Regions from separate parts of the Homo sapiens genome. Here region 2 is linked to region 1. The links come from fine-mapping of genetic effects on gene expression. A gene starts in region 1. The other region holds a variant in brackets. All regions are shown on one strand. Distances are from middle to middle.

Region 1 (5,387 bases):
CTGAGGTCAGGAGTTCGAGACCAGCCTGATCAACAAGGAGAAACCCTGTTTCCACTAAAAATACAAAAATTAGCTGCGGATGGTGACATGTGCCTGTAATCCCAGCTACTCGGGAGGCTGAGGCGGGAGAATCACTTGAATCTGGGAGGTGGAGGTTGCAGTGAGCCAAGATTGTGCCACTGCGCTCCAGCATGGGCAACAGAGCAAGCCTCCATCTCAATTACAGAAAAAAAAAGACTATCTCCTAGAGCCTCCAAGCACACACACCTCCTAGAGCTCTGCCAAAGAGCCTCCAAGCACACACATGTCCTCCGTGAGAGGACACAGCAAGATGGTGACAGTCTCCAACCTGGAAAAGGGCCCTCATCAGAACCTGACCATGCTGGTACCCTCTTCTCAGACTTCCAGCCTCCAGAACTGTGAGCAATAAATGTTTGTGGTTTCAGCCACCGGTCTATGGTACTTTGTTACAGACTAAGGTAAGAATAAATTAAGGAGTGTGTGCAAAACACAATAGAGTATGGTACAAAAATGCGCTCAATAAATGTGGCCAGGCTCCTCTCTTTTGAAGGATTCATGAATAATCCTAAATAATATACTAAAATGTCATGTTGGATAAGGTATTTACAAAAATCTTATTCAATGGAATTTGTAGGCAACTGAAGCATTTCCTTCATTTACTATTGTTAATAACTATTAGTAGTGTTTAATATTATGTCAGGTGCATTTTTCTTTCTTACGGTTATAACTAAACTTACTTCTTTGTAGCTGCAGAGTATTCCATGAAATGAACGTGGTATAATTACTTAACCATTTCCACCATCCTGAACAATAATTGTGGTCAAGGTACACAGCCTTCGATTGTAGACCAATGGGTCTAAATGTCTTTGGGGCATGTCCATCCTTCTTAATGCCATGAAATTACAGAGTATCTCCTTAGGGTGGTGGTGGTGGGGGACAGATACACTAACACTGATAATCACATACAGTAAATATACACAGAATGTCCCTTGGAAAGTTGTAAGTGGAGTTAAAGGCAGGCCCTCAGGTTAAGGATAACAGTTCTAGGCCATTTGAGGCTGTGGTTCATTTTGTGAACCTGCAAACACCCATCCCAGTTACCTTCATATGTACGTTGCTCCTGATGTACAGACATCCAGACTTAGCACAAAACAGCAGCACTCACTGTGCACTCCCACTCAGGGGTGCGCGTCTATGGGTTTTATGCGTGTTAATGCATTTCACCCTCCTCACAAGCCTATCTTCAGAAGGCTCAAAAAGCTAAGAGGCAGAAACAGGACTCAAATCTTGGTCATCTACCTTTAATGTTTGGTCTTAAGTCTTATAAACACATATCATTTAATATAAAAAAAAAAGGATACTCACCTGACCCTTTCAGATGTTTAACGATTCGTCTTCCTCCTCGGGGATGCTTTTTCTGAAGGATGCTGGCCTGGGGAAAACAGAACCGGAAGGGTAACACCTGCCATACCTAATAAAACCAATGAGAAATACGAGGCCCCGAGATGGAGTTTCTGGGAGATTCCTGAAGAGCACGCTGTGGCGATTGAGATGATGACGCGTGGAGCTGCCCCCCTCCCTGTCTCCCACATCAGGGACCTGTCCCTCTACAGGAGGAATTCTACTCCTGAGGCCACCGTCCCCTGTCACTCAGGTGGCCTGCATGCACAGCACTTCTGGCTCTGAAAGCGTCACCTCATGGCTGTTTCTGCCTTCTTGCTGGTGAATTTCCAGGCGAGGCTCAGGCGCTCACGTCCCTCCGCGGCCCTTGTTCTCAGGCAGGTACCGCTTGGTTAGGAGGTGAAGGCAGGGGAAGCAGCAGAGACGCTGGAGCTACAAGTTGCACTGTCACACACACCTGCATCACTCAGAAGGCCCGATCATCCATCCCAGCACAGAGACGCTGAAGCTACAGGTTGTGTTGTCACACACACCTGCGTCACCCAGAAGGCCCGATCACCCATCCCAGCACAAGTCTGCACAGCTCAGCCTCACCACAGCTCACTCTGTCCTGAGACACATCTGCGCCCCTCATACCCACTAACGCCCAGCACGGCCATGCTACGGGCCCCACCACCCCACACGGTGCAGAGGTGCATCCGTGGGCCACGGAGACCCGTCCCGACCGCTGCCCCCGCACAACCCCCAGAGCGCACCTCACGGAGCAGAGTCCCAGGGACGCACCGCCGAGGTTCACAGGCACGGGCTGCGTTGACCCAAAGCCTCTGGAGCACCCCCGGTCACCAGTTATGGGGAGAGCCCGGCTGTGTCACCCCACACTCTCCAGCAAGTGCGTCACCGTCAGAAGCCCCGTGCCCGTCTCCCCTCGGAGCCACGCGCACCAATCTCACCTGCGCGGACTGGCGGAGATGCAGCGGCTGCGTCACTGGTGCAAACGCGCACCCAGCACGGCCCCCATCGCCCCCAATGACGCTCGCGTGCACCCGTGTCACAGTTACGGGGACAGGGCCGCCGCGTCAGCCTCGTACTCCCACGCAAGTGCGTCACACACTCGGTCCCGCCACCCCCTGGAGGCCAGCGCGCATGCGCACGCGCACCCAGCGGCCGCAGCGCGCAGACAGCAGCAGAGCCCGACACGCATGTGCACACAGACCCCTACACGTATGTGCACGTACCCAGACCCCGACACGTATGTGAGCGTACACAGACCCCCGATACATAGCGTGCTCAGCTGTTGACGTGCCTGTGCGGGCACACAGACCCTGACGGGCGTGTGCGCACGCACAGATGCCGACACGCATGTGCAGACACAACAGAGCCCGACACACACGTGCGCCTGCACAGATGCTGACACGCGGACACACTGACACGTGTGCGTGCACCCCTCCCATCCCTTTCCCTCCTCCCACTCTCCCAAAGCCGCAGACGCACCCGGTAGTCCCCCAACGCTGGGGCCTCGGGAGAGGGTGAGGCTAGAAGAGGACGCGGGGCCGTCGGGGGAAACCAGAGCCCCAAGCCCCGTGTTCCAGCATGCAGCACGGCGTACTCCTGGATGGTCTCTGGGAAATGTAGTCCGGGACGGTCCCAGGCAGGGGCCTCAGGGCGCGTCCCAGGTCGGTGCCGGAGCGGGCAGCCCCAAGCTAAGCCCTTCCTGGTCCCTGCAGACGCCCCTTCCCGACTGGGAAAGGAGCTGTGTCACCCCAGCTGGGACCCCGTCTGGCCTCTTGAGTGGGGTGATGCCGGGCGAGCCATGGCTGTCCTCAGAAGGGTATCCTCTCCTAGCCCCTCTGGAGCGTCACCTGGAATTCTCTGCAGGCCGCTAGCACAGGCTGCCGGAGCTGCTATTCGGTGTCCCTTGCTTGCTGCATTGTAAACAATGTACAGGTAGCAGTTATGCCCCGTGAGTCCCGCTCTCATTCCAAGTACTAACGTCACAGGGTCTACAGGATGTTGCAGGTACTTAACCACAGTCTCATTTTGACTCAAAATCCCACTTTTTGGTATTTATGCCAAGGAAGTAGCTATAGTTGTACACAATGTTGAAGTATGTTCACAAAATGCTTTTTTTCTGAAAATCTTTTTCTCTTTTAATTAGATAGACTTTAGATTCATATGTAGTTACAAGAAATAAAATTGAGAGATCTTGTGTACCTTTCACCTGGTTACCTCAGCTGGTGATTGTAGTATATAATACCACAACCAGAAGATTAACATTGATGTAATCCACTGACGTTACCCAGAATTTCCAGAGAATAATTTTTTGTTTGTTTGTTTGTTTGTTTTGAGACGGAGTTTCGCTCTTGTTGCCCAGGCTCAAGTGCAATGGTGCGATCTCGGCTCACTGCAACCTCCGCCTCCTGGGTTCAAGGGGTTCTCCTGCGTCAGCCTCCCCAGTAGCTGGGATGACAGGCATGCGCTACCACGCCCGGCTAATTTTTTTTGTATTTTTAGAAGAGACGGGGTTTCTCTATGTTGGTCAGGCTGGACTCGAACTCCCGACCTCAGGTGATCCGCCTGCCTCGGCCTCACAAAGTGCAGGAATTACAGGCGTGAGCCACCACACCCAGTCGAGAATAATTTTTAAAAATGAAAATCTTGCAGTGGAGGATAAAGGAAAATCAGATTAAACCATGGTCTGTTATACAATGACATAGAGTACATTTCCTAATAATACTGACTCATTAATTAAGAAAACTTCTGAAGAATCAACAAGGGAAAAGGGTAGGTTAAAATGGTACATATAATTTGAGCAGACATGTTTTGGTGAAATTAACACAGGCTCTGTGGTCTGATTTGAGGGTGTTAATCTGAGCTCTGATAGTTATTAACTTCACAGTGTGGTAAAGTTTCCTCACTGGTAAAACCACAAGAAAGATAGTACAATGTATGACTGTTTGAACAGGATCATCCACATGAAACACACAGTCATATATAACAATTAAGATAAGGTAGCTGTTATTACTAAAAAATCAGTAACATATCTCAATCCATTTTCATAAAAGTAACAAGTCTGCTATTTCCTTTTAACTAGGGAGACAGAGACATGATAGTTCCTTAAAAAATCTAGTTTAAAGATTCTTATCAGCTAGGTGCAGTGGCTCACACCTGTAATCCCAGCACTTTGGGAAGCCAAGGTGAGCGGATCACTTGAGGTCAGAAGTTCAAGACCAACCTGGGCAACATGGTGAAACCCTGTCTCTACTGAAAATACAAAAATTAGCCGGGCATGGTGGTGAGATTGTAATCTCAGTTTCTCAGGAGGCTGAGTCAGGAGATTCGCTTGAACCTGGGAGGCAGAGGTTGTAGTGAGCCAAGATTGCGCCACTGCACTCCAGCCTGGGTGACAGAGTAAGACTTCATCTCAAAAAAGAAAAAAAAAAAAAAAGTGAACATTTTAAACTAGTGCTATCTCATTCTATTTCATATACCTTTGAAATGTTACAGTCAATATTCGTTACTTGCACATATAACCTTGGGAATATTTCCAAAGTCCATATTTGTAAGGTATCCAGTGACTATTTTCATATTCATCAATGATTAATTTTTCAAAGCAAGGAAACATGACTGGTATCTCTCTTCTCTCCACATGCACACAGACATAATGTGACCCGTGGTTGGGCTGGATTTCTTTTACAAACTATGATTTGGAGAGTTTTTGCCTCATTTACATGATTAATAGGATTCAATGTTCCAGAAACAAAACACACACATGCTTAGAGGTGGAGGGGAAGACAGTAAACATACATACTAAGTGTTAACAGTAATTATCTTTAGATGGTATAAATATGGGTAATTACGGCCGGACAGTGGCTTACACCTGTAACCCCAGCACTTTGAGAGGCCAAGGCAGGTGGATCACTGGAGGCCAGGAGTTCGAGACCAGCCTTGGCCAACATGGCGAAACC
Region 2 (5,387 bases), 25 kb after region 1:
CTGAAGTTTGGTACTTTCTGTGGGATAGATACTTTTCACTTTGTTCTGTGGCTTTGGTAAATTTCAGAAGTCTGAAATGATTGATTTTAGTGACTTTGCGAGTGTTTTCATCATTTTGCAGAGGAGACTTGGTTTCTTGTGGTTTGCATTCATCAATGTTAGAAGCTGATCTCTCTATTCAATCTTGCAGTTTTAAGTAATGCATTGAACAGTCACATAACAGAACGCGGAGCAGGAGAACTAAATTTCTAGTGTAATCAGAATGGCAGGCACTAAATGAATTATTTTACAATAAGCCTGTGTCCTTTTTATTAACTGTTCAGTGAAGAAGTTTGGAGTCTATAAACTTGTAATAAATGTGGCCTGTAAGAACTACAAATACTGGAAAGCTTCTCTGAGGATGTAATTTCTAATTTGATGAAGAAAACATTCTCTTTAATTAACTTGGCAAGGAGAAGGCTTTGGCGGGGCACCATGGCTCCCGCCTGTAATCCAGCACTTTGGGAGGCCGAAGCGGGTGAATCAGGAGGTCAGGAGATCAAGACCATCCTGGCTAACATGGTGAAACCCCATCTCTACTAAAAATACAAAAAATTAGCCGGGCGTGGTGGCGGGCTTCTGTAGTCCCAGCTACTCGGGAGGCTGAGGCAGGAGGATGGCGTGAACCCGGGAGGCGGAGCTTGCAGCGAGCCGAGATCGCGCCACTGCACTCCAGCCTGGGCGACAGTGTGAAACTCTGTCTCAAAAAAAAAAAAAAAAGGAGAAGGCTTCAATAAAAAGAAAAGCAACTATGCCTGGGGCGGAGCTGGAGTGGAAATAAGATGGCAGACATTGGACGTCATTGAAGGCCTAGTGATGTGGTTTTAGTCCATGTGCCAAGAGCAAAAAGTTATTTAAAATATATTAGTTAGGGCTAGGCGCGGTGGCTCACGCCTGTAATCCCAGTACTTCGGGAGGCCAAGGCGGGTGGATCACCTGAGGTCAGGAGTTTGAGACCAGCCTGACCGATATGGTGAAACCCCGTCTCTACTAAAAATACAAAAAAATTTGCCGGGTGTGGTGGCATGTGTCTGTAATCCCAGCAACTCGGGAGGCTGAGGCATGAGAATCACTTGAACCTGGGAGGCAGAGGTTATAGTGAGCTGAGATCGTGCCACTGCACTCCAGCCTGGGCAACAGAGCAGGACTCCGTCTCAAAAAAAAACAGAGAAAAAATATATTAGTTATTGGGGAATATCAGCATATATAAATGTGTTTTCAGGCAAAAACCACAATAACCTGGATACAGACACATGGAAATATATTAGGAATTTTTTCAGGTGTTCAAGAGGGAGCTGTGAAATATAACTTAGTGATATTGGGGCATGATAATGGGAGAAAATATGTTAAACCATATATACCCTATGCGTGATAAGGAGTTTATATCCAAAATATATAAGGAACACCCACAACTCAAAAGCAAATATGATAATAGTAATAACCCTATTAAAGATGAGCAAAGGGGCTGGGCGTGGTGGCTCACACCTGTAATCCCAGCACTTTGGAAGGCCAAGCATAGTGGATCACCTGAGGTCAGGAGTTTGAGACCAGCCTGGCCAACATGGTGAAACCTCATCTCTACTAAAGTACAAAAATTAGCCAGGTGTGGCGGCTAATCACGCCTCCCCGGAAGGCGGAGGTTGCAGTGAGCCGAGATCGTGCCATCGCACTCCAGCCTGGGCAACAGAGTGAGAATCCATCTCAAAAACAACAACAACAACGAAAAAAAGTAAAGGGCCTGAATAGACTAATCATCTGGAAAATGCCAATCAAAATCACAGTGAGGTATCACTTCACATGTCTTAGGATTGCTATTATTAAAAAGACAAAAGGTAACAAGTGGTGAGGATGCGGAGGAAAAAAAATACCCCTGTACGTTGTTGTTGGGACAGTCAATTGGTAGAGCAATTATATTTTTAAAAATTCTAAAAAACATGGAGTTGCCTTACAAGTTATAATTTAATTTTACTCAAAACAATATGAGAATTAAAATTCTTTTTAATTTTAAAAATCAAAATGACCAAACAATCCAGCAATCCTACCTCTGAGTATGCGTCTGAAGGAAATGGGTATTTCCAAGAGCTATCTGCACTCCCACGCTTGCTGCAGTGTTATTCGCATCAGCCAAGGCACGTCAGCCGTATGAGGGTCCTTCATGATGCACGGATAAACACACTGTGAGACAGACAGACAGATTTCTCAGCGGCTGAGAGGGTTTTAGAGATCCTGACACCCAGAGAGGAACTGGGGACAGAAGAGGATGCAGCTTTCCATTACCAAAGCTGAGGAGGTCC[A/G]GAAGGAAGAGGAGAGGCCAGTGGGGCTCACCTGCAGGAGCCTGCTGAGACTCCGGAGCATGGTCCGTGGGAACGATTCTGATGCTTCTCAACCATGTGCTTCCTTAGCAGAGAACTGTCTAGATTAGCGGTTCCCAGCGTTTTTGGCACCAGGGACTGGTTTGGTGGAAGGCAGTTTTTCCACAGACGGGGGGATGGTTTCAGGATTAAACTGTTCCACCTGAGATCATCAGGCATTAGTTTGATCTCATAAAGAGCATGCAACCCAGATCCTTCGCATGCACAGTTCACAGTAGGGTTGGCACTCCTCTGAGATGCAGTGGCGCTGCTGATCTCACAGGAGGCAGAGCTCAGGTGGTCATGCGCCCTCACCCACTGCTCACCTCCTGATGTGCGGTCCAGTTCCTAACAGGCCACCCATGGGGACCGGTCCGCAGCCCAGGGGTGGGGATCCCTGGTCTAGATTAGTGCAGCTTGACTTTGGAAAAGAAACAAAAACCCTCTGATGTGGGCACAGCAGCCACATCACGCAGACCCATGATGCCCAACTTAAGAGCTCCCCGCGGGCCCTCACTGGGTAAGGGAAGTAAGCAGCCCAGATCCTGCTACCCAGGAGACCACCTGCCACCACTTCAGAAAAGCCAGGGGATCTCCCTGCACTCTAGGTCTGAGGCCATTTGTGAAGACGTAGCTCAGGTGCTTGCAGATTCAGCAGGCACATTCCCCGCTGACCCCAGAGCAGCTTTCTGGCCTCACCCAGCTCCGGGGCCTCTGTGCACCATGGTGCAGACCTTCCAGGCCTCGGCCACGCAGGCATCTCTGTCTTCCCTGCTGAGGGTGGCTTCTCCCAGTCCCACTGGCGCGTCCCTGGGGCCCATCCCTGGATGAAGGAGAAGCTCAGCGCTCCTCCCAGGATGGAGAGAGGCCCACCTCTTCCCCGGACCGGAGATAACAGACCCTGTTGGTGGATCAGATTGGGCTTGAGATGAGGTGCCCAGCCCTGTCCAGCAGAGGGTGCTGCTCTGAGAGTCAGAAGAAAGACCTGCCCCTTCTCAGATTCCTCCAGATGACCAGCAGGGATGACTTTAGACACACGGTGTTAATACATGCTAGAACCTGCGGAAGGAAAATAGGAAAATAACTTGAACGATATACTCAGAATGGTGAACTCTGTGGTTCATTGAGGATGAAGTTCACTATTCAGTTTCGTGTGAGATATTTGCTGTCTTTTGGATGTCTCCTGAGAGTCATGCATTTCTGTAGAATCACAGCAAATATTAGGGTGTAATCATCCATATGTGTTTGTATATTATAAAGTATAGCAAAAATAAATATATATATTTATATCCTTCTACTTTAATTGAGAAAAGGCTGTGTCTCTTCACTCTCTCACCTGCAGTCCATGAGGGACTCAGACCCACAAACCTGAGACGCATCTCTATTGAGAAAGGTTATCTTTTTACGCTTGATGACATCATGGCAAAACCACCATGTTATTGTTTGATTTTTCTTTCTTTTATATCTAAACTGAGTCAAGATGTATTAAATGCTTATTGATTATATTTATTTAGTTTATTTAGTTTTTGGCTCATATGATTTACTTGGATTTAAATTTTCTTCTATTTTATAGTTTTAATTTACCCTGTTTTACTATAGGATATTAAATCTAACATACATATTGTCACTTGTTTTACATATTGTTATATGTTTTCCTATTTTCATTTTACACTGCGATAATGCAATCTTTTACCATATAAATGTATATATTTTTATGTAGGGAATATATAAGTAATTGGGTATTCTTTTGTCTTTTCCTTATAATTTCCATATTGTATAGTATGAGATAAATATTAATATTTTCTAAGTATTTTATACTTTAGATAATTACATATTGATCCATAGGGAGGTTGTTTTGCTGCATGCGTGGGTTAGATAATGTTTTCTCTTCACTTTTGCTTCATCTCCACCCTGATTTCCCTCAACCCAACAGCTCTTGTTGTGGATATGGAATAGTAGTCATTCCAGTGAATGGGGAAAATTGAATGGTTGATGTTAGGAATCAGTTTGAACCCATGACATGGCCTTAAATTACACGCAGCAGGTATTTACATATATATGAGATAATAATTTACAAGTTAGATTTGGGGTGGGGATGCAATTACAAAATAACAATAAAATAAAATATACTTAGGAATAATTTTAACAAATATGTTAAATGTATATAAGAATTAAATAGAAAATTTCTGAAATATACAAATGTACACATAAGAAGTTACAGCATGGACTTGGGTAAAAAAAATCAATATTATAAAAATCAATTGCTCATAAGCTAATTTATAAATTTAATTTGGTTCAAATATAGATACATTCAGTTGGGAGTTATGGATGTTATTGCAAGAATCTCATAGGTGAAAACACAAATAAGAATAATCAAGAAAACTCTGAAAAAGAACGAAATGAGGGTAGCTAGTCTTGTAAGACATGTTGGTTGATGGGCAGACTGATAGATGGGTGGAGCTCACAACTCAGAAATAGACTGCAGTGCATAAGACACATTACAAAGTGACAAAATCGATTCTTTACAACACATAGTAAGATAAAGGTCTGATTTAAAATAAAGCTACATGGCAAAAAAAAAAAAAAAAAAGTTCAAGTTTCGATCAGGTTAATTCTGGCAGGTTGTGCTGGGCCTTCTGAGATTTCTGGGGATGGACAGCTCCCACTCCTACCCCGAGTTCCCTAATCTGCCATTTTTACTGAAGTCACTCCCCACCATCACTCGAACTGAAAGTGGGTAAAATGTTTCCTCTGAATCCTTTTTCAAGAAACTCAGAAGAAAGAAAGCCTATCTATACATGGTCCTCAAGTGACTATTGTAAGTGTTTCTCTGCCAAGAAAGAGCAAAGACTGTCACGCCCACAGAAGCAGGATGTTCCATCACATAGGACACTTCTCCATGAGCTCTAACATGGTTTACTCTGTGTCCCCACCCAAATCTCATGTCTAATTGTAATCCCCACGTGCCAGGGGCAGGCCTGGTGGCAGGTGATTGTA

Which allele goes with the higher level. Positions count from the first base shown, and alleles are read on the strand shown. Sizes are in standard deviations (SD) of each study's normalised expression.
As copies of G replace A in region 2, the expression in lymphoblastoid cells of the gene that starts at base 2,524 in region 1 goes up (large effect, 0.88 SD a copy in TwinsUK).

What was found.
Region 2: its variant is fine-mapped to the expression of ZNF331 in lymphoblastoid cells (TwinsUK, PIP 0.95).

The regions. Positions count from the first base shown.
Region 1 is chr19:53,535,282-53,540,668 of GRCh38, reverse strand. It overlaps ZNF331 (zinc finger protein 331), which reads right to left and starts at 2,524. Exons shown (of 6, transcript NM_001079906.2): 1 at 2,373-2,524; 2 at 1,387-1,453. RefSeq lists enhancers at 2,445-2,494, 2,280-2,796.
Region 2 is chr19:53,510,025-53,515,411 of GRCh38, reverse strand. It overlaps a transcript of ZNF331 not described here. Among named protein-coding and RNA genes, the nearest start is that of ZNF331, 25 kb to the left of the region's middle. The variant A/G (reference allele first, on the strand shown) is at 2,334.